Regions from separate parts of the Homo sapiens genome. Here region 2 is linked to region 1. The links come from fine-mapping of genetic effects on gene expression. A gene starts in region 1. The other region holds a variant in brackets. All regions are shown on one strand. Distances are between the middles of the regions. Region 1 holds the start of MAPK9 (mitogen-activated protein kinase 9). Region 2 overlaps GFPT2 (glutamine-fructose-6-phosphate transaminase 2).

The links. PIP is the estimated chance that this variant, and not a neighbour inherited with it, causes the effect.
Region 2: its variant is fine-mapped to the expression of MAPK9 in whole blood (TOPMed, PIP above 0.99).

Annotation. Positions count from the first base shown.
Region 1 is chr5:180,286,758-180,301,772 of GRCh38, reverse strand. It overlaps MAPK9 (mitogen-activated protein kinase 9), which reads left to right and starts at 9,690. Exons shown (of 12, transcript NM_002752.5): 1 at 9,690-9,925. It overlaps LOC124901151 (a long non-coding RNA gene), which reads right to left and starts at 9,541. Exons shown (of 2, transcript XR_007059085.1): 1 at 9,473-9,541; 2 at 6,520-6,802. GFPT2 (glutamine-fructose-6-phosphate transaminase 2) reads left to right here. Exons shown (of 19, transcript NM_005110.4): 19 at 165-1,075. The coding sequence ends at 209. RefSeq lists enhancers at 2,228-2,728, 8,570-9,212 and silencers at 9,135-9,474, 9,485-9,854, 9,985-10,174.
Region 2 is chr5:180,313,380-180,328,394 of GRCh38, reverse strand. It overlaps GFPT2 (glutamine-fructose-6-phosphate transaminase 2), which reads left to right. Exons shown (of 19, transcript NM_005110.4): 7 at 57-118; 8 at 3,500-3,579; 9 at 4,090-4,207; 10 at 9,439-9,602; 11 at 11,337-11,432; 12 at 11,534-11,631; 13 at 11,934-12,054; 14 at 14,431-14,588. Among named protein-coding and RNA genes, the nearest start is that of MAPK9, 29 kb to the right of the region's middle. RefSeq lists enhancers at 4,581-5,266, 14,352-14,646. The variant T/A (reference allele first, on the strand shown) is at 5,657.

The DNA of each region.
Region 1 (15,015 bases):
GAGGCTTCTGGACTAAGGAATCTGCCTCCAAGACGCAGGTCTCTAGGTTGGTGACCATGGTGAACATCTGTCTCTTGTTTTTAAGTACTCTGAAAATTGTCTGTGAGAGGTAGCATGTTGCTGAGATCTTTGGGGTCCTGAACAGTCACTTTCTTTCATTTTAGGTTGACTTCCCCAGAAATCTGGCCAAGTCTGTAACTGTGGAATGAGGCTGAGACCGTGACAAGACCATCACCACCTTTCATCTGATTCCAGACCTGTCCCAACAGCAGGGATGCTACATGGGAAGAGAAGTGGACATCCCACATGTTCTGCGTGCTCCTGTAGAGCTTGACAGCTTCCACGTGCCTTCTACCCAAGTGCTTTTGCTTACAGCAGATACTGTTTCTCTGTGTCCTGAAGTCGCCAGAGGAGAAGGGAATCATTGTTTACACATGGGGATCAGAGCAGACTTCTCCACTACTGTGCAATAGAGATACAGCTCTCTTCAGAGTAACTGTGAACCTTTTATAACCAACACTAGAGTTAGTTTTAAAAGACAAGATATTTATAATGACGACTGTATAGCTTTTAAGTTATTTTTCTAGTATGTGGCTTTCTGTAGCCGTGGTAACGGCCAAACTGTTCATCCTAGCTACCCATGCTCTGTGTCCAGGCTTGCTCCTGGCAGGTGGCATTCATCTCAGATGTGAGCACAAGGCATTGGCCCTCTGGACTCCTTTCTCCTTTTCTTTCCTCTCTAGGCTGCTCCTGAATCCTGTTCTCTGACATCCGTGGAGCCCCTCCTGCATCCACCTATGCCTCCTATAAGTCCAGTTGAAATCTCAGCCTCCTTCAACATTTTCTTCTCGTGTGTGGCCCACATCCCTCCACTTCTCCAACTTCTGTTTAATCTGATCACGGCTCTTTTTAAGCCCTGGCAGCATTTTGGTCCCTGCTCCTTGCCCATAGTAAAACAGCTTGAAATATCCCATGCAAGAGAGTAGTTTCAAGTGGGCAACTCTGCTCTCTATTTAAAAGCGTGCACAATCAAAAGTACTATGCAATTTTAGGACAATAAAGAACATACAGTTTTTTTGTGTGTGTTTGCATTTTGTTAACCTCATTCTTTTTGTGTACTTTGAATTTTGAGGACTGTGCAGGAGCTCGGCAGTGTTTGGAGGGGCAGCCCTGTTTGTTAGTAACATTGGCCTCGTCCACACCTGAGACCTATGGGTTTCTAGTAGGAAAAGGAGGGCTGTTGTCCAGGATACAACAAATCCAAGAGATTTGGGACTCAGCAGAGGGGCCACTGAACCTGGAAGGGGTTGGGCAGAACCTGTAGACAGCATAGAGGGGTGAAACTCTCAAATTTGTATTTTTTTCCCAATAAGGCTATTATAGTCCCTGGTTTCATTAATACAATCAGATGGAAAGATTGAAAGCCAGAGAGTTCTGAAGTTTTGTGAAGTCAGAACTTAGGCTTCCTACGTAAGTGCTGTCACACACAACCTGAATGATGTCTTCATGACAACGGGTGTGTGTAGCCCTAGTATCTCATAAACCCTGTCCAGGATTACCTATGGGCTACTCAGCAAATTTCCATCCTGTCCTATGCCCTCACCTGTATCATGGGCTGGAAACCTGGGAGCTACATTTCCAGTTATCCACCATCCTGTCCTATGCCCTCACCTGTATCACAGGGGCTGGAAACCTGGGAGCTACATTTCCAGTTATCCACCATCCTGTCCTATGCCCTCACCTGTATCACAGGGGCTGGAAACCTGGGAGCTACATTTCCAGTTATCCACCATTCTGTCCTATGCCCTCACCTGTATCACAGGGGCTGGAAAGCTGGGAGCTACATTTCTAGGTTATCCACCAGTGAGAGGCATTCATGGGAGACTTGGAAGATAGTTGAGTGGCAGAAATCATATTTTGTATTTATCTCTGGCAGAAGCAGATAGAAATGTTGCTTCAGCAAACGGGGTTCTGCTGTGGCCCTCAGGGGCTCCCCAAAACGCACCCACCTCAGCATGCCAGGCAGTGGTGACCATGAACAGAGGTCGCCTGTGGCTCCTCTAAAATCCCAACTCTGGAGAGCTGGCAGCAACCAGGTGCCACAGGGGCTTTTCCTGACTTCTGTCCTCCAGGCCCTGGGTCAGTCCCAGGGAAATGGCTAGAATAGTTTCTGTCCTACTAATCAATCCATGACCAATACAACTTCCAAGATTAGGAGACTACAAACTAGCCAGAACATTTTTCTCTGGACAAGACCTAGAAAGTGTATTTCATCCTTATGCCCAAGAGGCGACGGCCATTCTGACTTTTGTGCCAATTGTTCCCTTGCTTTTCTTTATAGTTTCACCTGTGTATCTATCCCCCAAATACACTGCCTAGTTCGAAAGTGGAGGGTGAGTGCATGCTGGCGGTGCAAGGAGAGGGCGGCACTGCCTCCACTAGACGGAGGTTCCAGGAGGTGAGCAGATCAGTCTCCAGGTCGTGGTCTGACCCCTGCTTCTCTGGGAACTGACAAGGCCCCTCCTGGGGAAGTCATGAGGAAGGTCTCGAGGAAGTCTTGGGCTCAGCACAGTCAGGCACCTGGTAGGGCCAAGGTGGGGACCACGCGCTGGACCTGCAGTGGAAATAGTCAGAGGGAGGGGGCTGACCTGTACGTCCTGCTTCTAAGCTCGCCACGGCCTGCCTCCAGCTCTCGGTGGGGGGAAAGCTGGAAACTTCTGTGAATGTTGTGCGTCCTCAGCAGAGGAGGGGAGCGCCCCTCGTCGGCACATGGCCAAGCCAAGTACCGCCAAGAACCTAGGCCAGGCTCTCCTGGGCATTTTGTCCCCGGGCTACAGATGGCCTGATGGAGGTGGGGTCTTGGTGAAGACAGTTCACCCCGTGGGTCACGCTGCTCAGTATGGCTCAGTCGCTCTCCACGTCTGGTGCAGAGCCATCACCTCAGGGTCACTTCTCGCCACCCTCCATGGGCCTCCCAGGCCATGTCTTCTGTGTTGGGTTCCTGTTTTTGTTTTTTTGTTTGTTTGCTTGTTTTTTGACAGAGTTTTGCTCTGTTGCTAGGCTGGAGTGCAGTGGCGTGATCTCAGCTGACTGCTACCTCTGCCTCCCGAGTTCAAGCAATTCTCCTGCCTCAGCCACCCAAGTAGCTGGGACTCTAGGCGTGCGCCACCACACCCAGCTAATTTTTGTATTTTTAGTAGAGACAAGGTTTCACCATGTTGGCCAGGATGGTCTCGATCTCTTGACCTCGTGATCCACCTGCCTCGGCCTCCCAAAGCGCTGGGATTACAGGCGTGAGCTGCCATACCGGCCTGGGCTCCTGTTTTCTGTATCTGTGTCTTCCTTCTTCTGAGTTTCCTTTTTTGTTCTGGTGAAGCCCATTCTTGAGAAAAGGTGCTTGAGAGGTGTCTTAAGTCAGTTCAGCCTGCTGTAACAGCCCTGGTGCCTTATAAAAATCCCACATTTCTTTCTCACAGTTCTCAACAGTGGGAAGTCCAAGATCAAGGCACCGGCAGATGTGGAGTCTTGGTGAGGGCCCATTTCCTGGTTTGTACAGAGCAGCCTTCTTGCTGTGTCCTCACATGGCAGAAGGGACAAGGGAGTTCTCTGGAGCCTCTTTGATAAGTGTACTAATCCCATTCATAAGGGCTCCACCCTCACACTCATCACCTCCCAAAGGCCTCACCTCCTAATAACATCACATGTGGCAGGGGTTAGGATTGCAACATATGAATTTGGGGAAACACAAATATTCAGGCCACAACAGAAGGCAAGTTTTTTGAGAATCTGCAGGTGTGGAAATGATTTTTTTATTTATACTTGATAGAGGGTTTAGCTAAACACACAATTCTAGGTCAGAAAAAGGTGTTCCTGCAGAATTTTAAAGGTAGTGCTTCATCGTCTTGTTCCCAGTGCTGCTATTGAGTCCAAAGTCTGATGTCTTTGTAGGTGACCTTTTGGTCTCTTTTTTGTTTCCTGTGTTCTGAAATACCACAAGTTGCCTAGAGCACATTTCATTTAGGGTTGATTGCATCTGGTAACTTTTGCCTTTCAGACTAGGAAATTTTCTTGAATTATTTTGTTGTGGATTTCTCTGTTTCTCTGTCTCTGGAGTGTCTATTATTCCCAGGGTGAAGCTGCTGGACTGGCCTCTAATTTCTTATCTTTTTTATCATTCATTTGTTGTCTTTTTGCCCTACTGAGAGATTTCAATTTTATCTCCCAACCTGCTACTAAGATTTTTCATTTCTGCCAACATGATTTAATTTTTCGAGGGTTTTTTTTTGCTCTGACTATATATATATATATATATATTTTTTTTTTTTTTTTTTTGAGATAGAGTCTCACTTCGTCACCAGGCTGGAATGCAGTGGCGTGATCTCGGCTCACTGCAAGCTCCACCTCCCGGGTTCACACCATTCTCCTGCCTCAGCCTCCTGAGTAGCTGGGACTATAGGTGCCCGCCACCACACCCGGCTAATTTTTTTTGGTATTTTTAGTAGAGATGGGGTTTCACCGTGTTAGCCAGGATGGCCTCGATCTCCTGACCTCGTGATCCGCCCACCTCGCCCTCCGAAAGTGCTGGGATTACAGGTGCGAGCCACTGTGCCCGGCCACAAACTTTTCTATTCTTCCCCATTTATTATTTCTATTAGAATGAACCATAGATATTTATTTTATATTTTGAGTCATGCCCAATACTATGTTAGTTTGTTGTTCCAATGGTTCCAGCAACAGCCACTGGGGGCTCTTTCAGTTGGCTCTTGTGTCTCTTTGACATAGCCCCATCTGTGTGTGTGTGTGTGTGTGTGTGTGTGGTAAGTACTTCCGTGTGTGTGTGTGGGGGGGTACTTCCGTGTGTGTACTTCCTTACGTGTGTGTTGTACTTCCTTGTGTGTGTGTGTGTGTGTGTGTGTGGTAAGTACTTCCGTGTGTGTGTGGGGGGGGGGGTAAGTACTTCCGTGTGTGTACTTTCTTACGTGTGTGTTGTACTTCCTTGTGTGTGTGTGTGTGTGTGTGTGTGTGTTGTAAGTACTTCCTTACCTGCACAACAATATTCTCCAGGCTCGTCTTGTCCATCCCCTGTCCCAGCCCTAGAATCAACCATTTCTCCAGGGATCCCTGGTTCCTTTTATGGCGAATGACATTAGAGAACAAGATCTGGGCTCTGGGTGTGTCAGCCACTGCTGAGATGTCATTGCTTCTAGGCCATCTCAGCTGACAGAGCAAGGCCATGTTGCATACACCTGTGCTGCATAATTTTTAAATGGCTGGTTCTTGTTTGAAGGATGCAATATTTTTTCATTCTCTCTGAAGCTAGCAGTAGTTTTATTTTTATTTTTTGAATTTTCCTTCTCCACAGAGTCTGTTTCTTTCAAGATGCAGTTTTTTGTCTTACTTTTCTTAGCCATATGACATGGAGCTGTCTGTTCAGATTCAAGGGGGGCTGACTGGAAGGTCTAAGGCATGGTAGGGCTGGTTGATGCAGGATTCACTGCTGGGAAATCTGGTGGGGGTGGGGGTGTCATAATGTTCATACCTCAGGTCTTCCCTTCAGGGCTGGTCAGACTTCTGGAGAACAGCTTGCTGGCTCCCTGCCTGAGGACAGTCCCAGCTGCTGGTGCTCTGGGGGATTCCCGGAGGAGGAGGGCTAAGGGCCACTGGGTTCAGCATTCAGTTATACAGCCCCCAAATAACCCTGTTTCCATACAGTGCCACACCCTCAGCTGCGCCCCAGCTCAGATGCCCTCATTCTAATCATCACCATGGAAGAAACTTCCAGACTTCTGCCTTTCCCAATTCTGCCCTTCCCTGCCATGTCCTCACATGAGCCTGTCTGCCCAGCATGGCTGACTAGTTCCAGAATGGAAGCCCTGTCTGGGGGACCATCAGAGTCCATTGTTGTGGGTTTTCAAACTCCATTTGGGCCTGCAGTGGCCTCCATGGCCCTAGAGTTTCCAGACCAGCTCTGCCCCTACCTCCCCTGGGTATGATGTTACAGGCACCTCCCAGTAAACGTCCCCATTGGTTTAAGTGCAGTTTAGTTTTCTACAACACACAGCTGGGACAGCCCCGACTTACACCCTCTAGCACATCTCTGGGTCCTTGTAGGGGAGAAGGGAAGATGTGGGTTAGTGCAATGGGGGGAGGGCAGGCAAAGTGTTGAGGGGACAGAGGCAGTCAGCATAAGGACCTACACCATCCCTGCTGCATGGGCCGCACCCAGCTCTTCCTGCTTCTGTCCTTCTCCATGCCACTTCCTACAGAACCAAGGCAGACAGAAGTGAATCCCTTGCCCAGAGGAGCACAGCTGACAAGAGTCGGATTGGAATCCAGGCCAGTCAAGGGTGGGGGATATCAGGATCACAGAAACCCGTTGGCACTGTGGCTGCATACACAGCTGGCCTCCGGACAGGTCCCCAATGCCCCAGGCACCCCTAGCTCCTCCACCCCGCTGTGCTCTTGTCTTAGTCTGTTTCTTATTCTGTTGCTTATAACAGAATACCTGAAACTGGGTAATTTACTTTAAAAAAGAATTTATTTGTTACAGCCCTGGGGGCTGAGAAGTCCAAGGTTGAGGGGCTGCACCTGGTGAGGGCCTTCTTGCTGCTGGGGACTCTGCAGAGTCCTGAGGGTGGCGCAGGTGTCACATGGCCAGGGGGCGGAGCATATTCACAGGCCAGCTCAGGTCTTCCTTCCTCTTCTAATGAAGTCACCAGTCCCACTCCGGTGATAACCCTTTAATCCATGAATCCATCGACAGGTTAATCCCAACCACGCTTAGAGGCCCCACCTCTCAGTACTGCCACATTGGAGATTAAGTTTGAACATGAGTTTCATTGAGGATAAACATCCAAAACAGCTCATCCCAAATCTAAATGTTTCTTAAATCAACTAATCAATTAAAAAAAGAAAACCTCTCTGGGCTGAACAAGGCGTATCAGTGAGCTAAAGCCAGCCTACATGCCTGGCAGTGCCAATCTACCTCAAGGTCCTCAGAACTCTCCAGTCCCCTCACCTTTCCCTAAGACCAGGTGACTTGTGGCTCCCTGAACACAGCAAGCAGGTCCTCACATCTGAGCATGTGGGCCTGAGCGCCCTTTCTGCCTAAGTCACAGGCCCAACACATCCTGCTCGGCAGCCTCAGCAACAACTTCCTCCTGCCCAGAAGGCCTTCCTCAATTGCTTCTCCCCACCATAGGCCGGATCAGGTGAGACGTGCTCACGTGTCACACCTGGTTCACGTATGTCGTGGCAGGATCTTTTCACTTGGAGGGTTCAACCAGGATTCTTGGTGCTGTTCCAAGGCCCCCCTCCCCACCCTGTCACCTCAGCTTTGTGTCCATAAATGTTCACTGTATTTCATAAACCAGAAAAAAAGCAGTGTCTCTGCAATAAAAAGAACTCTTACAGAAAACTTAGTGTGAGATATGTATAGCTGTGTACATATGTACACTGATTTTTGGTTACTCACTTGACATGATGTGAGTGCTATGAAGTTAGGCCTGGAGTGCTGGGAACTGGTGTCCCCTCTGTTTTTTTGTTTTTATTTTTTTGAGATGCAGTTTTTGCTCTGTTGCCCAGGCTGGAGTGCAGTGGAGCAATCTCGGCTCACTGCAACCTCTGCCTCGTGGATTCAAGTTATTCTCCTGCCTTGGTTTCCTGAATAGCTGGAATTACAAGCACCCATCACCACGCCCAGCTAATGTTTGTATTTCTAATAGAGATGACGTTTCACCATGTTGGCCAGGCTGGTCTCGAACTCCTGGCCTCAGGTGATCCACTCACCTCGGCGTCCCAAAGTACTGGGATTACAGGTGTGAGCCACCGCACCGCCTTCCTAATGAGAAGCACCCATCAGTGCTCCTTGGTGGAACCTCAGATCTGACAGCTAGGCTTTTACTCTTTTCCCATAATCCTCGATCCTGACAATTTCTGGTTTCCTGTTCTCTCTCATGCACTTGAGGCAGGTGGCAGGTGAGTCTGAGGTAGCGACAGGTGTGGGCCCTCCTCAATGCAGGCCACACTGTGACGTAGAATTTCAAGCAGCGATGAGCCATGCTCAAATTTAGAAAACTCCCTCTGGTGGCCAAGGGGGACACCATGCTGGATCCGTTCCTCTACCCCACCCCTCCTCTGAGGCTCTGGTGCCTCCAAGCGGCCTGGCCCAGACCTCAGTGCCCTTGGAACCTGGGTCACAGGCTAGCTGCCCTCCCCAAATTCTGCAACCACCCTTCACGCCACCCAGCCCCTTACCCTCCCCATCTGCAGAGTCCTGTTCCTTCTCCCCACTCTGGCCCTGGCCACTCTGTGGATCCTGGTATTGTGTTACTGCTGTTCTACACCACACTCACCATTTGTCAACCATTGTTCCCACTCTTCTAGTCCCCAAAGGCCGGCTCTCCACGGTTTTCCCCATGTGCCCAGCCTCAGTGCCTCTCTTCCTGCTTCACTTTTCAACGTAGATCTGGCAACATCCCAAGCCCCGGCCTCTCCCATCCTGTACGACCCCCAGGCCGCTGGTACCTGATCCAGCCTCAAAAGCAGCTCAGAGTCAACGGGTCCCAGTCCCTAGGGGGCTCTGAGCAAGAGACTCCTCGCCCCGCCCCCCACTCCTCTCAGAGGCTTGACTGAGCACCTCCCTTTTTTTTTTTTTTTTTTTTTTTTTTTTTTTTTTTTTTTTTGAGAGAGTCTCACTCTGTCACCCAGGCTGGAGTGCAATGGCGCAATCCCGGCTCACTGCAACCTCCGCCTCCCAGGTTTAAGTGATTCTCCTGCCTCAGCCTCCCGAGTAGCTGGGATTACAGGCGCCCGCCACCACGCCCAGCTCATTGCTTCGTATTTTTAATAGAGACGGGGTTTCACCAGGTTAGCCAGGCTGGTCTCGAACTCCTCACCTCAGGTAGTCCACCCGCCACGACCTCCCAAAGTTCTAGGATTACAGGCGTGAGCCACCGCGCCCTGCCGCACCTCCTAATTTTTAGATGTTGTCAACTAAGTGATCCCGCCACCAAGCGCAGTCTCCTCCTGCGTCACCGACCCACCGGGTCACCTGTCTACACACCGCCATCTCTTCGCACCCCCTCCCCCTCTTCGACCCGGCTTCTGGCCTCACCCACACCCCCATAGACCCGTTCCTCCGGCGCCGCAGCGAGCAACCGAGTGCGAGGCCCGCCCCGCCTACCGGGCCCTAGCACGCCGGGCTCCCGGACGCCAGGCCGGCCTCCCCCCGCGATCGCCCCGGGCTCTCCCCGAAACGGGCGGGCTCCCGTGCCGCTCCAGTCGCCTCACCGCCACAAGCCTGCACCTGCAGCCCGAGGCCCGGCTCCCCGCGGACCCCGCGGTGTGAGCCCCGCGCGCCTCCAGCCCGGTTCCCGGTCCTCCGGGCCACCCTCTCCACCGAGCTGCGCCCCCCTCGCAGGGAGAGCGGGCTCAGCCGGTGGGCCGCGCAATGCCTGCGTCTCCAGCTCACCGCGTGCACTGCGCGCACCCGAGCGCCATGGCCACTCGGCCCGCGCCACTGAAAGGCCCGGGGGCGAAGAACCCGCGGAACCCCGGCCCAGGACCTCGGGCGCCCGACCCGGCCCCCGACCCCGCCCGCGCCACCCTCCATCGGCCCGCCCCCCAGGCGCCATTGGCCGCGCCTGCTCCGCTCTCCGCGCGCTGATTGGTCGGCGCGAGGGTCTGTCAGACCGGGCGCCGCGGCGGCGGCAGCGGCGGAGAAGGGAGCGGGACCGGAAGGGTCGCAGCGCCCCGGCGCCCCTCACACCCACTGCGGCGGCGGCGGCGGCGGCGGCGGCGGGGCGGAGCGGAGCGGGGCGGGCCGGCGGCGGAGCCGGGGCCGCGGAGCCAGGAGTGACTAGCACGCAGCGCCGCCAGTCCGCCCGCCCGCCCTCTCCCCGTGGCGCGGCGGCGGGGAGGCGAGGTGAGCCCGGCGGGCGGGCTAGGCCTGGCGGCGGCTGCTCGGGCCGGGCCCGCGGGGAGGGGCGGTGAGGGAACCGCGCGGCCGGGGGCTTCGGGGCGGGCCGGGGGCTGCGGGGCCCTGGCAGCCGCAGCCGTCGCCCCTGTGCTGGGGGATGCCGCAGGCGCCCCCTTCCGCCCGGCTGTCAGCAGCCCCGGGCTGCGGGCCTGCTCACCGGCCTGGCCCGGCCGACCTGCCCGTGGGGTCTGCGGGCGCCATCCCTCCCGGAGGTGGGGCAGACAGCTGCACTCCTGCGCCGGGTGCCCAGGGGCCCGGGGTCGCGTCCCCGCGACCTTGGCCAAGGCACTGACCCTCGCTCTGCCGCGGTTTTGCCTTCGGGAAGGTGGGGAAATGTCTCTTCTGGACAGGGTTGTTGTCAGGCTGTGTGAATGTATGCAGACGCCTGGGCAGGACCCCGGTGTGCATCTGTGGAAGACTGGGCAGGGTGCTGGCCCGTGCTGGTGTGAGTGGTGTAGGAACCCCCTCCCCACCCGCCCAGCCTCCCGCCTCCCCGCGCACTCCTCTCTTGCCTTGTCATTGCACACTCGGTGTCCAGCAGTGCCAGAGGGGACCCAGCCCGAATCCCTTACCACCGCGCCCCTCCCCCAGAAGACTGCTGCCCCGTCCCACTCATCTCGCCCGCCTTGAACATGCCAGCCCGCATTTGCCCCAGGACCTTTGCATTTGCTGTTTCCCCGTCTTTGGAGTTGTCTCCGTGATCTTGGCACAAGTAGCTCTTTCTGCTCCTTCCTCTGGTCAGATGTCTCGTTTTGGGTGAGGCCCTCCTCGACCACCCTCTTTCTTCCCTTAGTCATGCTATTTCATTATTTAAAAAATTTCCTTCCTAGCTCTCATCTGGTTTGAAACTATTCTATTTATTTGCCTGCTTATTTTCTGTCTCCCCGACTAGGATGTAACTTTGTGAAAACAGGTAGCTGTCTGATTTGTCCACTGCTTTATCCCCAGTGCTTAGAAAGCACACAGGAAGTATTCAGTAGTATCAGCTCAATGAATGAATGAATGATCAAAGAAATGGCCCAGCCTGCCTGTTGTCTCTGCTTTATCTGTTCATTTAGTGACTTCTGATTAGCGTGTGAAACTTGTAAGCAGATGGAAGCTTGTTCTATTTTGTGAAACATTTTGGTGTCCTTGACCCCTTTAATTGCTAACTGTTGGAACAAGCTGTGATATAAAATCTCACATTTTTATAATAGTTTAGCTGTAGCTTTCTTCCACACATACAAGAGACATTTACTGAATTCTGCATTATCTAGGTCATGCTTTCTGCTAGACCCTACGGACACAAGGCAGATAGCAACGGGGTCCCTTTCCCGAGAGAGCCCAGGAGCCCAGTAGAGAAGGCAGGCATGCAGACACTTAGTTCCAGGACTGTACAACCCTTGCTATAGGGGAGGGGCTATGCCATGGAAATGTGGAGGAGGTGACAGGTGGTGCTGGGGGGCCTTGAGGGTGATAAGAAATTTGCTAGGCAGGGAGAGGCACAGAGGTGTGAAGGAGCAGGGCCAAGGAAGGACCGTAGGCCACTGTGGAGTTGAGAATCAGTCTGGAGGGCCAGGTGTAAGGACACAGAGTCGTGGGGACCCTAAAGAACAGGAACCTTACCCAGCAGTTTTCTAGAAGAAGGTGGAATTTGGCTGGGTGCCATGGCTCACGCCAGTAATTTCAAGACACTTTGGGAGGCTGATGTGGGAGGATCACTTCAGGCCAGGAGTTCAAGACCAGCCTGGGCAACGTAGCGAGATCTGTCTCTACAAAAAATTTTAAGAAATTAGCTAGGTGTGGTGGCATCCACCTGTAGTCCTAGCTGCTTGGGAGGCTGAGGTGGAAGGATCCCATGAGCCCAGGATTTGGAGCCTGCAGTGAGCTATGATCACACCACTGTGCTCCAGCCTGGGTGACAGAGCAAGACCCTGTCTCTAAAAAGGAAGGCAGCACTCCACATTTGTTCTGATTTTTAAATGTTGGCAATAGCTAATTAAATTTTTTTTTAATGCTGTGAGCCAAGCCAAATACAGATTCATTCAGCTTGGTTGCAGGATCGTCATCCTCCAGGACTGGCTGTGTGGGAGGGAGGAGCTGTGAGGAGAGCAGGAAAGGTAGCCTAAGGCCAGGGGAGCCAGGCCCTGTTTGCCCAGGTGCCAGCCCAGATACTCATTTGATTGTAACTGGAGCCCTGTGGAAACGGAAGCTCAGGAGTCTAAGTAGTCTGTTTCTTAGCAAGCAGCTGGTGAGTGGAGTTCGAACCCAGATCACTTCCCAGATAAGGATTCTTTCCTGGGTCCCTCAGCTCTGAGTATTCTCTTTTGGCTTTTAACTTGTTCTGGAAGAATGACCACCAATCTATTTAATGTTTTCCTCCATTTAACTTTTTTTTTTCTTCAAAAGGATCCTGCAGAGTTAAAAACAATACTATTTTTGCATAGACTTCTCTTTTGACAGCTTTGATTTTCCTGGCAATTTAATTTTCAGGGTGCCAGGACTTTAATTTGTTCACAGATTAAAATCTGTTTATTTGGTCCCGTAAATAAACAACAGAGGGGATACTTGAATGTGTCTAAGATAAAATATTCTTAATTTTCTGGATAAAGAAAAGGACCAGACAAACCAGTTAATAGCGAGTAAACCAGTTGTTTTCATGAGGCATAAGATAAAACAGAGACCAGATTTTTTTTCTTCTTGAGACTATTGATTTGCCAATAGGGCAACTATTTTTGGTCTACATACATACAGTAGTTACACCTCACACTTGGTTAGGAAGGTGCCATTTTTACATAATTTTCCTTCAGAATAATTAATTCCTGATACTTTGTACTTGATTGTATGAACCAGTTTCAACATCATTCTTTTTATTTTAACTTTTATTATGGGAACTTTCAAACATATACAAAATAAACAGAATAGTGTCCTGCTTTAACAGTTATTAACTCCTGACCAATCTTGTTTCATCTCTAATGGTATCCACTTGCACCCTTACCACCCATAATTATTTTCAAGCAAATCCTAAATATCATGTCATTTCATTCATTATTTTTTGGGATACTAATTACACAGTGGGTGCCCAGTAAATGTTTGGTAAAGACAAAGCTAAATGGGAGAATAAATGTGGTAGGGTAGCTCGGAGCAGTGGGTAAGATCAGGACTTTGAGTCAGACTCCCAGTGGGTCTGCTGCTTATCTGGGTGATGTGCAGAAGCGATTGCACTCATCTGTAAAACATACGGGCACAACCTCAGGGTGCTCAGGAGGTGTACAGTAGTTATACTTCACACTTCGGTAGGTCTCTAAAGGTACTGACTCTTTTAAAGTTGAAAAAGTAATAATTGCTTAATATCATCAAATAACTAGTCAATATTCAAATTTCCAGCTGCCCCATGAATTTTAGGTTTCCTTAATAGTTTGAAAGTAGAGCAAGAGAAGGCCATACGTTGTTGATTGGATGATACGTCTTTTAAGTTTCTCTTAATCCATAGATCCCCCTCCTATTTCTTTGTTTTCTTGGTAGTTTATTTGTTGAAGCAATCGAGTTGTTCCTTAGCATTTCCATAGTTGGTATTTGATTGATTGCATCTCTGCAGTGTAATTGAATGTGTTTCTCTGTAATCTCTGTAAGTTAGTAATTGGATCTAGACGAGGCTTCGTCAGATTTAGGGTGCATTCCTGCATCAAGATGCCTTCCTAAGTGGGCTGTGCACTTCTTATCTAGAGGTACCCTGAGGCTCTCTGCTCGTCCGTGTTGCAGATGAGTGCAATCGCTTGCTGCACATCACCCAGATAAATAGCAGACCCACTGGGAGTCTGAAGTCAAAGTCCCGATCTTAACCACTGCTCCCAGCTGCCCTACCGCATTTTTTCTCCCATTTAGCTTTGTCTTTAACAAACATTTTTTGGGCACCCACTGTGTAATCAGTAGAGGATTGAGAAATAAATCAGACACATTTTCTGCCCTTACAGAGTAGAAGTGTAAGTAGACTCGGAATGCAATCTAAAGCGAATACTGGGAGGGTGGCAAAAATGGGGGCATGCCCAGCATGGTTTGAAGGGAAAGGCTGGAGGAGGAAACATGTAAGAGAAGCAAGTGCTTGAACTAGATTTTTGAAGGAGGGTGAATGTTGACCAGCAGGTCAAAAAGGGGAGGGAAGTCATTTCAAGCAGATGGAACAGCTTAGGCAGAGGCCTGAAGGTGTGCAGTAGCTGGGTGTGTCCGCTGATCCCAGGTGGTTTGATGTTGCCTAAGATTGGGCCAGAGGACTGCCATCTCCTGTGCTGTGCTAGGGAACTGAATCTTATTCTCCAGGCAGTCAGTCACTGTTGAAGGAGTTCAAATGGGAGAATGGTGTGATCACTGCACACTTTCAACAAATCTCTCTTTTTTCTTTCCATATTTTGAAATAATTATAGATTCACAGGAAGTTGCACAAATGGCACAGAGAGGTCCCAGTACCCTTCCCCCAGCTTTCTCCCACGGTTACATATTTACACAACTGTAGTAAAATGTCTAAACCAGGACATTGGGCATCGGAGCAAGGTGTATAGAGTTCATTGTCATTTTTTATCGTGTGAAAATTCCTATAACCACTACCACAATCAAGATTCAAAACTATGTCATCATCCCAGATATCTCCTTGTCCCACCCCCTTACAGCCACAGCAGCCCCTTTTCCCCACCATTCATAACTGCTGGCAAGTACTAATCTAGTCTGCATCTCTATACTTTTGTCTTTTCAGGAATGTTATATGCATGGAGTTATACAGGATGTGACTTTTTGAGATTGGCTTTTTTCGTTGACTATCCTGCCCCTGAGATCCACCCAAGTTGTGGTATGTTTCAGCAGTTGCTGAGTGGTATTCCATGGTATGGGTATACAGCAGTTAGTTTAACCATTTACCCATTGAAGGACAGGTTTGGGTTGTTTCTAGTTTGGCACTATTAAAAATAAAGCTGCTGTGAACATTTGTGTACATATTCTCACGTGGAGTGATTTCTCTTTCTAAAGTGGCATGTGTGCAGTGGTTCGGAAGTCACAGAAATGGTGGC
Region 2 (15,015 bases), 27 kb before region 1:
AGGCTGCAGCAGCGGCTGCTGGAACGCGTTGACCCTCACTGTTTGTGTGTTTTCAGGAAGGTGCATTCGCGCTGGTTTTCAAGAGTGTCCACTACCCAGGAGAAGCCGTTGCCACACGGTGAGGCAAAACACACTGGCATTTCCCATAAGAAAGAACGAAAATAAAATCACTTAGCTGGAGGGAGACGGGAGAGGTAGGGCCTGTGGCACGCTGAAAGGTGCTCGTGGTGTCTAAAGAACAACTGTGGCTCAGCCCCGGGGACCGCGCCCCACCATCTCCATGGCTGGTGGTGCTACACTTCTGAATTAAAAAAAAAAAAAAAGAAACCAGAAAGTTGGATTTGTGTTTGAAATCTCCACAGATTTTTAGAGGTGGGCAACAAATTCCAGTTATAAATAAAATCGTACAGACAGGGCAGATCCAGGTTTTGTGGGGCTTGAAGCCTGTACAATGTGGGCCCCCCTTTAAGAAAAAGCAAAATTATGAACATGAAACTAGGGAGCAAAGTGAATATTGATTTGGATCCAGTACAGCAGAGGCCTTGAAGGCCCGGGGCTCAAGCTTCACCTTCACAAAGGAGCATGCCAGGAATCGGCTCAGAGAGCCTGCTTGCCCCAATGTGTCCCTCTGTTACGGTGGGCCCCCAGTGCTGCATGGATTTACAGAAGCAGGTTAAGTGCCATCCTGTTTATATTCACATAGGTTGATCATCCATCCAACCATGCAACTAATATTTACTGTGCACTTACTGTGTGCTGGGCCCTGGGGACTTAGTGACATCTGACCTGGTCCCTGCCTTGAAGGGCTGAACAGTTGTACAGGAGGGCAGAGAAGGGCAGAGGATAGTGATGCCCTGTGCCCGGCCCCAGCACAGGATATCACCTTACCTGGCAGGGGGGCAATGGCAGGTAGCCCCAGGCAGGCAGTGGGAAGAGGAACCAGCATGAGCAAAGGCAAGGGGCCCAGAGGGAGTGGGACCTCCCAGGATCCCCGTTGGCAAGGTGGGGGCATGGTGCAAGGGCATTGGTGGGACGGAGGCGTTCTAGGCCCAGTGTGTGTTTACTGACACCTGCTGTGTGCCAGGCATGGGAGACAGTGGTGAGCAAGGTGGTATGGACACTGCTCCAGGGCCTCAAAGGCTGTGGGGAGTGGAGAGGCGGACAGAGGCCGGCTCTAAATGGCCTCAGTGCCCTGTGGGCTGCGGGCTTCATCTGAAGCCCCAGGGGAGCCATCTGGAATGAACCTGTGGCCTGGGAGACGGCCGGAGAGGGTGAGGCTGTCTCTTCCAGACTGGCGTAGTATCTCAGCAGGAAACAACAGGAATTTATCATCATTTTTTTTAACCTTTTCTAAAACTGGAACTAATTTGCCATTTGGAATTTAATTCCTTCAATTCATAGAATTATAAAATACCAGTTGGTTCCTATCAAATTTAGAAGCCCTTTTTAAAATCCAATTTTATCATGATTTACTATTTTAAATGAACTCAGAAGAAGGCAGCGTGAAGAAGCAATAAAGCTTTATTTTTCTAAATTGCCTATAACTGAGGGCTCTATAACCTGCAGTACAATCTTCGGGTTGTCTTGGGAGAATTATATGTCTCAAGGTCTAGAGAAACCACAGAGCTCAACCTACAGCAATAAAATTTGGGGGAGTCATTTGCCAAGAAAATTAGATATCCACCTACTTTCTCACTGCCATTATTATAAACTATTTATGCTAGTTCCCCACTGGCCCCAGAACTATGTCTCAGATTTGCTTTACACAATAAATGATTAAAATATTCAAGGTGTTCATAGCACCTTCCTCAAAGCCCCAGACTTTGTCCCCCGCTTTGAGAAGCCATAAGTGGGGTCCAAACAGGCCAACGTGACTGGAAAACAAGGTCTGTTATTGTTGAAGAAAAATTTAGGAACTGCATTGAGTCAGGCTAACAGATTATGGATATATGTGGACTGGATTCAAGCCGATGAGCAAGCACTTCATTAGTTCATTGATCTAAGTTAGCAAGAAATCACCTAAGGTAAAATGTTACTGGATTGTATTCCAATTCATGTGTTTGAAACAGCTCTCTTAAATTGTCTTATTACAGTGTTCGTCGGTGTTTTCTTCTTATTAATAAATTAATGTGTAGAGGGGAAAGGCACACATCCTTTCGTAACTACTGCACTTTTACCTGCCTGGTTTTGAAGAACCGCAGGTTTAGAGCGCATGTGTTACCAGAGTGAGCCTCTTATTTCTGTGCACACCTATGGTAGATTTTATTTGCATGCTATAATTTATAAGAATGAGCAAAGGATTAGATTTTGGAATCAGGATATCATTTAAATCATGAGATCCTTTTATTTATTTATTTATTTATTTATTTAGAGATGGAGTCTCGCTTTGTCGCCCAAGCTGGAGTGCAGTGGCACGATCTCGGCTCATTGCAACCTCCGCCTCCCGGGTTCAAGTGATTCTCTTGTCTCAGCCTCCAGAGTAGCTGGGATTACAGGCACCCCCCACCATGCCCAGCTAATTTTTGTATTTTTAGTAGAGACAGGGTTCCGCCATGTTGGCCAGGCTGGTGTCAAACTCCTGATCTCGTGATCTGCGCGCTTCAGCCCCGCAAAGTGCTGGGATTACAGGCGTGAGCCACTGTGCGCCCAGCCAAATCATGAGATCTTCATCACGTCCACCACTAGAAGTTGTGAATCAGAGGAAATATCCTAAAGCTCTTTCCTAAAGATCCCCTGCTGAGGTGCTCAGAGAGCCGGGCTGCAGTGGCTGAGACAGTGACGCTGGGACAGGAGGCCTGAGTGAGGGCCCCTCACCTTGGCCAGCTGCAGACTCCCTGAGATTTTGCCTGTGACAGTTATTGTCCTCTTTATGATGAAGTCTACCTGGTGCGGGGTGAAGATTCTAAACTTCCATCCACGGGGTGTCACTTTGGCAGAGACAAAAAACCACCCAAGAAATCACCTTATGTCACCTACAAAGTAGAGAATATACAAAAGTCAGTCAGACTAGTGCCCACTAATGCTAGAGAACTGGGCTAGGGGAAGGGAAGGAACAACAGGGGGTCTTTGGGCAGATGGTGGGTGCAGAGCCCTATTGTTATAGGGATGCGCTGCCGTCGAGGCTGGGTGGAGACCTAGAGTGCCCCTGTGCCCCACCAGCGCCTCCTCTGCTGCCAAACGCTCAGCCTCCGCCATCTAACCTTGTGGGTTGGTCACATGTGGGGACTTGACTGGACTGGAGGAGGCCCGGCCTAGGAGGGTGGGAGTGAGACAGGTTACCAAGCTTTCTGGGCAGGTGGGTGATGCCAAGTCAGGGACCTGGGACTCAGGAGCTGGCCTTTCCATCCTGTGCTCCAGGCGTCCGTCCTGTGGGACCTAAACAGGATCCTCCACCACTGGGAAAGGGCTAGATTTGGGGATCCTACCTCAGATGCTGGGCAGACACCCAGCACTGGGCGTCAAAGGCAATGGGTAATGGGATGCCTCTTTCTCCCTACAGGAGAGGCAGCCCCCTGCTCATCGGAGTCCGGAGCAAATACAAGCTCTCCACAGAACAGATCCCTATCTTATACAGGACGTGTAAGTTTCTCAAGAAGTACCGGAACAGCACAGCTGCTGGTGTCGCAGGACTCGGCAGCTGCTCTGGCACAGTCAGCTCCCCTCTGAGGCAAGGAAACCCCACTCTGAGCCAGACCCAACAGGCGCACAGCTCCAGGTCTAAAAGGTTTTTGTGCAACTGAGACTTGGCTCCATTTTTTTTAAGCTTTTTATCATGGACATGAATTTATCATGATTTTGTATATTGTCAAACATACACAAAAGTGCCATTGTATAACGGCAACTGGGCTTTGATGTGAGTGCTTCTTTGGTTTGTTTTTGTTTGCATTCCTCTCACACTGTAGCCATTTAAATGCTTTTGCAGTGGTACTGTGCTATTGGGGGATCTTTTACACGATTTGGCTGACACAGCCAAAGCTAAAAATTGCAAATTTCTCCCACACATATTCAGAGGGGAAATTGGTTCCTTGCTGCATATTATGCAAACAAAACATCCCAGTGGGATTTGCAACCCATTCCTCCATTTGCTAGGCACTCTGGAGAATGTGAAGAATATCTGTAAGACACGGATGAAGAGGCTGGACAGCTCCGCCTGCCTGCATGCTGTGGGCGACAAGGCCGTGGAATTCTTCTTTGCTTCTGATGCAAGGTAACTGAGCCTTCTTCTCTTCGCTTCCTGGGATTACATAATCAAAGAATGCCTGTCTAAACACTGCCGGTTCTTATTCATCCTTCCATGTGAGCTATCGTGGCTCAGCAAGTCGCAGGGCCAAAGAAGAGTTCAGCCATCCCTGGGCCTGGGCCTGGAGTCCTTGTCCTAGGAGCACCTGCATGACTGTGGTAGGCAGCCCTGGTGGCCAAAGGCCAGATGCACTGGTGGGCACAGTGCTTCGAGCCTGCACAAAATGAATGGGTTAGTTGCCAATGTTGTAAAATTTGGAGATTTCACAGAGAAATCTGAAATCTCTAGCTTCTCTGGAAGAACTAGCAGATCGGGGCATGCTGTGCAGCCCTCTCTCAGGTGGCAGGTGTCTGGATCTGCTCAAAGGCTGCCCCCTTTAGATGAGACAACTGTGTCTAGACCTCAGTCCCTCCCATGCCCCTCCCTGCCTTTGCCTGGGGTGAGACCATTTGTGAAAGACAGAGCCAAGACACAGGGAGTTTTTCAATTGATTCTAAAGTCCATGCTCTCATCAATCCACTGAATAATGATTTTGAAATTTGAGAAATTCTGCTTTATACTCATTTCAGAAAAAAAAAAAGTTATACACACACTCACACACACACAGAGAGAGAGAGAGGGAGAGAGAGAACCAGAGCACTTTCCTGCCATTTGAAGTAGAAAACTGCTGTAATCACCTCTGGTACCTTCTTCAAAGACCCAAAGGCTTGGGCCTTTGTTATGTTTCCATTCTTGATGGGTTTTCTCTTTCCCGACCAGCCTCTAATAGGGCCGTGCTGTGAGGCAGGGAGGACACCAGGCCGGGTCTCCTGGGAAACGGGAGCGACAGGGAGGCGAGGCCTGATTAAACGCACAGCCAGCATCATACTTAACGCTGAGGTCAAGGCAGCGCTTCCCAAATGGTGCCCCTTAGAACACGCCGAGAATACCAACGAGACGCTGGTATTATTTCAGTGATTCTAAAACACGGAGAATTGTAGATTTTGGCATAGTACCATTAGAATTTGTTGAAGCTTTTATTTCTTAGAAGTTTGTCAAATAATTGTGATCTTAACGATCAATAGTAACTTATATTCAATGAAATATGATAGATGTTTCTTTTTTTATTTTTATTTATTTATTTATTTTGTCTCACTCTGTCGCCCAGACTGGAGTGCAGTGGTGTGATCTCGGCTCACTGCAAGCTCCGCCTCCTGGGTTCAAGTGATTCTCCTGCCTCAGCCTCTGAGTAGCTGGGACTACAGGTGCCCGCCACCACGCCCGGCTAATTTTTTGTATTTTTAGTAGAGATGGGGTTTCACTGTGTTAGCCAGGATTGTCTCCATCTCCTGACCTCATGATCCGCCCTCCTCAGCCTCCCAAAGTGCTGGGATTACAGGTGTGAGCCACCGCGCCCATCCAGATGTTTCTTTTTTT[T/A]TAAAAAAAAGGCATGAATGCCTGAAAGGAGAGGAAATAATTATTTGTAGGCAATACTATTACACATTTTTAAATCCAGCCAAAAGGCTGTTAGAACTGATAGTACTAGCAGCTGGGAGTAAAGGTGTGGAAATCCTATATCCTGGCCTTAGCCACTAAGCTGTATCTGGTTCAAGTGGGACCTTGTCCACCTTATTCTCAGGTGTCACCTCACGTGACCAGGCACGATGCAGTCAGCAAACGTTAGGTGAACCAAAAAAGCAATACTATTCACCACAGCTGGAAAAAAAAATGCTTTAGAGTAAATTTTAACAAAAATACTCTAGAACATATTTGGAGAAGTCTACAGAAATTTACCATGAGGAAGTAAGAGATTTGAATATAGGAAGAGATTCCACATTCCTCAGTAGGAAGGCTTACTATTCTTTTCTTTTTTTTTTTTTGAGACAGGGTCTCATTAAGTTGCCCAGGCTGTCCTCGAACTAACTCCTGGACTCAAGGGATCCTCCTGCCTCAGCTTCCAGAGTAGCTATTTTCAAAAATTAATGCACTCAACATTTAAAACTAATTTAATGATTACAAGTTATTTTTAAAAAATATTGACTCTACCCAAATTATTCTGTGAATTCTGTGCTGTAATTAAGACTGTCCAGGCCGGGCGTGGTGGCTCACGCCTGTCATCCCAGCACTTTGGGAGGCCGAGGCGGACAGATCATGAGATCAGGAGATCGAGACCATCCTGGCCAACACGGTGAAACCCGGTTTCTACTAAAAATACAAAAAAAAAATCAGCCGGGCGTGGTGGCGGAGGCCTGTAGTCCCAGCTACTCGGGAGGCTGAGGCAGGAGAATGGCGTGAACCCGGGAGGCGGAGCTTGCAGTGAGCCGAGATCGCGCCACTGCACTCCAGCCTGGGCAACAGAGCGAGACTCCGTCTCAAAACAAAACAAAACAAAACAAAACAAAACAAAACAAAACCCTCCATATTATTTTATTTGTTTATGCCTTTGGAACTTCAGGAAGTGATTCTGTCGCGTGTAGTGTAGAGATAAGAAAGACAACACATGCTGAGAAAGGAATGGCAGGTGGCCCTCCCAGATGTGAGCACACTGTCCAGCTTTTGGGCAACGGTGGCCAGTGTGTGCGGGGCACGGTATGAGAGCCTCACCAGGATCCCATGCGATAATCATGACAGACCTCTGGGGAAGGCACAGCTCTTTTCTGTTTACAGAGGCGGAACCTGAGACAGGAACTCCAGGGGGTTATGTATGTTGCCCACGGGCACAGGTCTGGCAAGTGACAGAGGCCCCGAGTCCACCTCAAGCCTAACTGGTGGGCCATTGGTTTTAATGACTAGATTACATGACTACCCATTTTGGAAATAAAATAATTATATTTAAACAAACATGTACATGCACACATAAATATAAACACACATGCGTCATGCATTGTTGGTTGGTTAATGCTACAATGGAAGCAGTGTTGATCTCTCGGAGACAGGATAGGGCCGTTTTTACTTCTTGTCACTCCATGTTTCTACTTTTTATACAAAAAAATATATTTCTATACAAAATTTTGTATAAAGCTCTGTATACTTTTATACAAAGCATACAAAGTTATTTGTACACTTTTATACAAAGCATACGAAGTTATTTGTACACTTTTATACAAAGCATACGAAGTTATTTGTACACTTTTATACAAAGCATACGAAGTTATTTGTACACTTTTATACAAAGCATACGAAGTTATTTGTATACTTTTATACAAAGTTTTGTTTAAAATATTTTTTCCAGTACAGTGGCTTGCCATCTTTCTTTCTCTTTCTTCCCTAGGATCTGGCTGGATATACGTCTTTTAGAGCCTTAGACCTTGATGGTTTCTCTCTTTACCTTTGCACCAGGAGTTTAAGTGTTCATTTTCAGGCAGTCACGTGTGGGTGTGGCTCTTGATAGAATGAGAGTGTTTTTTTTGAGACGGAGTCTTGCTCTGTCACCCAGGTTAGAGTGCAGTGGCACAATCTCAGCCCACTGCAGCCTCCGCCTCCTGGGTTCAAGTGATTCTCCTGCCTCCCAAGTAGCTGGGATTACAGGTGCCCGCCACCACACCTGGCTAATTTTTGTATTTTTAGTAGAGACGGGGTTTTGCCATGTTGGCCAGGCTGGTCTCAAACTCCTGACCTCAGGTGATCTTCCCGCCTTGGTCTCCCAAAGTGCTAGGATTACAGGTGTGAGCCAGGGCTCCCGGCCGAGAGTGTTTTCTCCAGTAGTCCTTCAAGCCCAACCTGATGGTTTATACCACAACTATATACCATTAATCACCTTTCTTTTTCATTTAGCAACTTTTCAAACTTAAAATGATTTTAAAAGATACTTTGTATTATGATCTCAAGGGAAAAAAATCATTATTCTTTTCCATACAGAGAAAGTTATAAAAATAAACACAATGGGCTGGGCACGGTGGCTCACACCTGTAATCCCAGCACTTTGGGAGGCCGAGGCGGGCGGATCACGAGGTCAGGAGATCGAGACCATCCTGGCTAACACGGTGAAACCCCGTCTCTCCTAAAAATACAAAAAAGTAGCCGGGCATGGTGTCGGGCACCTGTAGTCCCAGCTACTCGGGAGGCTGAGGCAGGAGAATGGCGTGAACCCGGGAGGCAGAGCTTGCAGTGAGTGGAGATCGCGCCACTGCACTCCAGCCTGGGCGACAGAGCGAGACTCTGTCTCAAAATAAATAAATAAATAAACACAATGACCCTATGTTTCTTTGGTAAGCATAGCTTGTAGACTACTTTTAGGGCTCCTTTGTGTATGTGTGTGTGTGTGTAAGAAACTAGGTCTTTTGTCCTGATGAGTTTCCCATTGTCTGGGTTTTGCTGAGTGCAACCCCTGGTGTCATTTACCATCTTCCTCTGTCCCCTGTGTTTCCTGTACGCTGGAGTTTACAAGTGTTAAAAGCTCGATCTTATTCAGGTTTGATTTTTTTTGGCAAGACTACATAGTTGGTGGTGTGTCCTTCCATCAGGAGGCGGGTGATGTCTCACCATCTCTCTTTTTGTGCTAAGAGCCATCAGGGGTTTGAGTGTTGCCAGCCTTATCCATCCATGATAAAGCTTCGTCCAGCTTTTTACCTTCTGGTTTCAACAGCCATGAATGGTCCTTGATTAGAGCTATTAATAATTAGGAGTTCATAAATTGATTCTTCTATTATTTCTTCATTACTAGCTGTATCACTTCTTAGAGAAACTTGCCTTCATAAAGTATGTGGTTGTTCTGAAAGACAGATTGTTTAGAAAGGCGAGATAAATGCTTTATTCTTTCCCTTCACGATTCAGAATAATGTGTTGGTTCTCGAGTATCTTCCAGAGGTGACATTGTTTGGATCCTGATTTGAAGAAACCGGTTATAAAAAGACAGCCGTGAGATTATTGGAGATATGTAAACATGCTGAATATTTGATGATATAAAGGAACAACTATTCATTTTAGATATGATTATGGTATTATAGTAGGTTAAAATAGTTTTAGAGCTCTATGGTAAAGTGTTTACAGAAGAAATGATATAATGTCTGGGACTGGCTTCAAAATAATTCCGTGGGGACAGGAGGGAAGAGTGGAGAAGAAAAGGAAGATTCACCTGCAAATCAATGTTTTTAGTGTGGTCTCTCTGTCCCTCCTAAAATGCCAACGATGTGGCCTCCACGCTTGGGAACCAGCAAGGGGCTGCTGCCTCGTAACTGCTCAGGGCAGGGCACTGATGATGCCTGTTTCCCTTGCCCCAGCGCTATCATAGAGCACACCAACCGGGTCATCTTCCTGGAGGACGATGACATCGCCGCAGTGGCTGATGGGAAACTCTCCATTCACCGGGTCAAGCGCTCGGCCAGTGATGACCCATCTCGAGCCATCCAGACCTTGCAGATGGAACTGCAGCAAATCATGAAAGGCAGGTGTCCTCCAGAGTCCACGTGCGGCAGCCTCGGGAGCCAGCGCGCCTGGTGGAGCTCCTGACACTCTGCCTGGTCCTAGTAGAGGCCACAGCCCTCCTGCCCTCTGTGGCCACCAGGGCGGGGCTGCAGGTAGCCTGTGGCTTGCACAGGTGAGGGGATGTGGGGAGGCTGGCCTGGCACCTCCAAGCGGGGGCTCCTGTGTGCAGCCAGCCGCCAGGTCTTTCCTACTGGAACTGAGCCCAGTGTGTCAGCTGCCTTCCTTCACCGACTCCGCGGGACACATGCCCACCCTCAGGCATCATTTCTCCTCTGGGTGGAAGTCTGCAGGTCTGCAGTAAATGGGGGGTGGGGGTACACTTTCTCCCTACAAGGAGAGCCTCTCTGTCTGCACCCATTTCTGTCCCCTTACAACCTCTACCCCACAGGGCAGCCTGAGCAAACGTCTAAGAACATGAATCAGCCCCTGTGATCATCCCGCTGCTCAAGGCCCTCCAATGGTTTCCTACTGTTCTTAGAATAAAATCCAAACTCCCTGCCACAGCCCACAAACCCCACACCCCAGTGGGGCCAAAGCCTGGCCCCACCACACTCAACCCTCTGTCCCACTGTGCCCCGCCACAGCCCCTGCATTCGCTGTTCTTCTCATAGGACTGGTTCCTTTTCATTGCCTCCAGCTCCCTTGAAATGTCACCCCCTCAGAGACTCCTTCTCTGCTCCTGTGTCTGCCATGGTCCCTCCCCAGCCCCTCCCCTATGGTGGCCACCCCTCATTCCCCTCACTTGCTTCATTTGCTCGTCGCACAAGTGCCAGGTCATGGGAGACAGGCCGGGAGCATGGGCGATGTTGGTGTCATGAGTGTGCGTATCCTAGAGAACACGGCCTGCCCTGCCTGTGGGTACCTCCAGAGCATCAGGTGCAGGGGCTTGAACACCCTGCAGCCCCATTGTCCCATCAGCACCATCCAATCCCACTCAAATCAGAGCCCTGGAAATGCCTGTGTGGCTGGAAAGGTTTTTTTTTTTTTTTTTTTGAGACGGAGTCTTGCTCTGTCGCCCAGGCTGGAGTGCTGTGGCGCGATCTCGGCTCACTGCAAGCTCCGCCTCCCGGGTTCACGCCATTCTCCTGCCTCAGCCTCCCAAGTAGCTGGGACTACAGGCGCCCGCCACTACGCCCGGCTAATTTTTTGTATTTTTAGTAGAGACGGGGTTTCACTGTTTTAGCCGGGATGGTCTCGATCTCCTGACTTCGTGATCCGCCCGCCTCGGCCTCCCAAAGTGCTGGGATTACAGGCGTGAGCCACTGCGCCCGGCCTGGAAAGGTTTTTATTACGGAAACCAGGAGGGTATTTATTAGAAGGAAAATTGCCTGTTTCTTTGGGCCTGCTTAGCTGTACTTTCCTAGCTGGATGGCTTTTTGGGAGTGAAGCACTTTACTTTCTTTTGGCCTTGCTAAGGGAGCATGGCCCAGAGGGATCAGCCAGGCCATTTGTTACTTGCATGCCTTGGGCAAATCCCTCCCTTTCTCAAGCTGCAGGGTCCAATATGTAAATTGGAGATAGTCCTGGTTCCTGACCTGCTTCCCTCTGATGGTAGTGAGTGTCAGGCAGGGTAATCCCTGGGGATGCCTTTGGGAATCTGCAGTAAGCTTTACAGGAGTTACTATCGCTGCTGCATAATGAAAAGCAGTGAAATATAATGAAATTAAAACTGACCAGACGTTTATTTGACCAGGTAACTTCAGTGCGTTTATGCAGAAGGAGATCTTCGAACAGCCAGAATCAGTTTTCAATACTATGAGAGGTCGGGTGAATTTTGAAACCAACACAGGTAATTCCTACACTCGGTGGGGAGCCTCCGCCCGAGCCTAGTCTCAGGGAATGCGGTGACTGTGTAGACTCAGCATTAACGCCTTGTCGTGTGCCCTGCAGTGCTCCTGGGTGGCTTGAAGGACCACTTGAAGGAGATTCGACGATGCCGACGGCTCATCGTGATTGGCTGTGGAACCAGCTACCACGCTGCCGTGGCTGTAAGTGTGACACATGTGCGTGGGGAAGTCGACGGCAGTCTAGGACCAGACACTGGCCTTCAGTTTTATCACTCATGTGGCCTTCTGAATTTGGCTAAGCCCTTGTACCCATTCCCATGAGCTAGCGTGAGAAATGACACGGAGCCCTTTTATCTTCGAGGTGGCCTGTGGGTGACCGAAGTCCCCTCGCCACCTGGACAGTGAGGTTCCGTGTCACAAACTGTCCCTAGAAGCCCAGCTGCCCCATGTCCCTGTCGTGCCTGTGACTGACTTTAGTCTCCATGCTTGCTTGTTGGCTTCAGACGCGGCAAGTTTTGGAGGAACTGACTGAGCTTCCTGTGATGGTTGAACTTGCTAGTGATTTTCTGGACAGGAACACACCTGTGTTCAGGGATGACGTTTGCTTTTTCATCAGCCAGTCAGGTAAGGGACACAGGCATTGTGGCCAGCCTTGCATCAGGTCAGCTCTGGGCTCTCTCCTCTTCTCCTTCATTCAGTTAAGTCCTCTGCATGGCTACCCTGTGCTGCGAACCCTCTCTTGCAGCGGTCATTTAACCCGTAGAGCCATGGATTACTGTCGCCATTGTACGGGGAGGGCAAGAGATGTCTAAGGCCATGCAGTCAGGGGGTGACAGCTGGGATTGGGCTGGAAATCCACGCACGTTAGTCTTTCCCCTGCCCCGTGGCTTCTCCCTCTTCTTGCCTATCCAAGACTTCAAGGACCACTTACCGAAGTGCTCATAAATGTTTGCTGATTTATGTTAATAGAAAAAGCATCTCCTTTAACATTTTGTTAGGTTGAGAGTCACGTGGAGGACCCAGTATGGGCTCTGTGCCCAAGTGTCCAAGCCGAGCTGCCTGTGGCATGCAGTGCCCATGCTGCCCAGCAGGGGGAGGTGTGGGGGAGACAGTGCTCCCTTTTAGGGCCAAGGAAGGTCTCCCAAGCTACATGCACCCCATCTGGTGCCATCCCAACACTGGGCTTGACATTTGCTCCAGCTGTCTCAGGGAGGTGATCCAGGGCCATAGGCTTGGAGTCTCCTTGAGCTCGTGGAAGATTTTTGAAATGTTTTAATTACGGATAATTCCAAGCCTTTATAAAAGTAGAATTTTCATATAATGAATATCCTAGCCTTATCCAGCCCATCTTGTGCCGGTCGGACACACTCATATTAACCCCTCGTCTCCATGGGGTTACTTTGAAGCCAATCCCGGGCATCATGATATTCATCCATATAAATACTTCAGGCTGCATGATTAAAATGACAAAAGAAAAACATATAACCGGCCGGGCGCGGTGGCTCACGCCTGTAATCCCAGCACTTTGGGAGGCTGAGGTGGGCGGATCACGAGGTCAGGAGATTGAGGCCATCCTGGCTCACACAGTGAAACCCCGTCTCTACTAAAAATATAAAACAATTAGCCGGGCGTGGTGGCGGGCGCCTGTAGTCCCGGCTACTCAGGAGGCTGAGGCAGGAGAATGGCGTGAACCCGGGAGGCGGAGCTTGCAGTGAGCTGAGATCGCGCCACTGCACTCCAGCCTGGGCGACAGAGCGAGACTCCGTCTCAAAAAAAAAAAAAAGAAAAAGAAAAACGTATGACCACGGTGTTACTACCACAACTAAAATACTGATTGTAATGCCCTATCATCTATTAGGACTTTTAGTACTCCTGCCATTTTCCATTTTAAATACCATTTCCATTTTGTTGACAAGTGAAGAAAAACCAGTACAGATACACCGACCATCCGGCCCACCACCTTATGACGCAGGAGCTGCTGCCGTGTTCACCTTTGGGTTTCTGATCCCACCAGAGCCTCAGACTATTTTATAAATTGGTGGGAGACATTAACAAAAGAACAGAGGTGGAGCTAATATGAAAATAATGCAGTGGCAGCTTCCGAATCTCTGTGTGTATAGAAGTCAGCCCTTTAATGAGATTGAAAAAACACTATCGAACCCTAGGGCGCGGGTGACAGAAGTTAGAACCCCCTTTCCCGCACCCTCACCGCAGTACCCCGTGACACTCCAGTGCCATAACCCAGGGCTCTGAAGAAAGAAAAGCAGAGGAGAATTGGGCCACCTAGCACCGGGCGGCACCTGCCTGCCCTGCAAAGCTGGGACAGACACAGCCAAGAGCAGTGGCCCTGCAAACAGAACAGCCTCCCGACTCATGAGGATTTCAACAGTTTTGATTTTATAGTCTGGCTTATGCTGAATTTAATTTGAGTGCTTTAGGACTCACAAACATAGGGAGCTTGTGCTGGTTTATGCATGAAGCTGTTTAGCTTTATTCTAAAAACAATTTGAGTCCACACTGAGAGGCTTGCAAGAAGTGTCCTTTCAAACAGGATCTAGCTGAGAAACACCACTTGGGGACATTCCTGCTTGTCAGATGTTAAATCTGTTCCATCTCAGCACGTTCTGAATAAGGCAGCTTATTCAGTTGCAGAGAGGGCGCTGGGAGCCAAGCCCACCTGTCACCAGCTGTATGGCTTTGATCAGAGCACCGGTTTCCTCCTGTCTCTGAGCCCTCATCCTCAAGAGGAAAATGGGGACGATGGTCCTCACGGGGTTGTCACGAGATTTAAATGAAAAGATGCTTGCCACAAATAGTAACACACCTTGAATGTAAGAATCAACCGAAAAGGCTGTTGAGCGAGCGTTTTCCTTTCTGAACACCCGCTGGCTGTGTCTCGGGCGCCGATTTCCCTGTAAGAGCCGGCGGTGAAGGAGGAAGGGGTTTGGGGTGGGGCCGAGGCTGGCGGAGCGCGGCACTGAGAGGGCCCCTGGGCGGCAGGCGAGACCGCGGACACCCTCCTGGCGCTGCGCTACTGTAAGGACCGCGGCGCTCTCACCGTGGGCGTCACCAACACCGTGGGCAGCTCCATCTCTCGCGAGACCGACTGCGGCGTCCACATCAACGCAGGGCCGGAGATCGGCGTGGCCAGCACCAAGGTAGGAGGAGCCACGGGCGCCCGTCCCAGGGAGAGCCTGGCGGAGGCAGGTGCACCAGAGGCCGCCCTCCTCCGGCCTGCTCTGCCCGCGCCACCGCCTTTCTTTCCCCTTCCCGCCTCACCCCTTCTCTCCGCTCCTTTCCTTTCCCCTCCCCTCTTGGATTCCCGTATCTTCATTTTTTTTATTTTTATTTTTATTTTATTTATTTATTTTTTTTGAGACGGAGTCTCACTCTGTCGCCCAGGCTGGAGTGCAGGGGCGCGATCTCGGCTCACTGCAAGCTCCGCCTCCCGGGTTCACGCCATTCTCCTGCCTCAGCCTCCCGAGTAGCTGGGACTACAGGCACCCGCCCCACACCCGGCTCATTTTTTGTATTTTTAGTAGAGACGGGGTTTCACCGTGTTAGCCGGGATGGTCTCGATCTCCT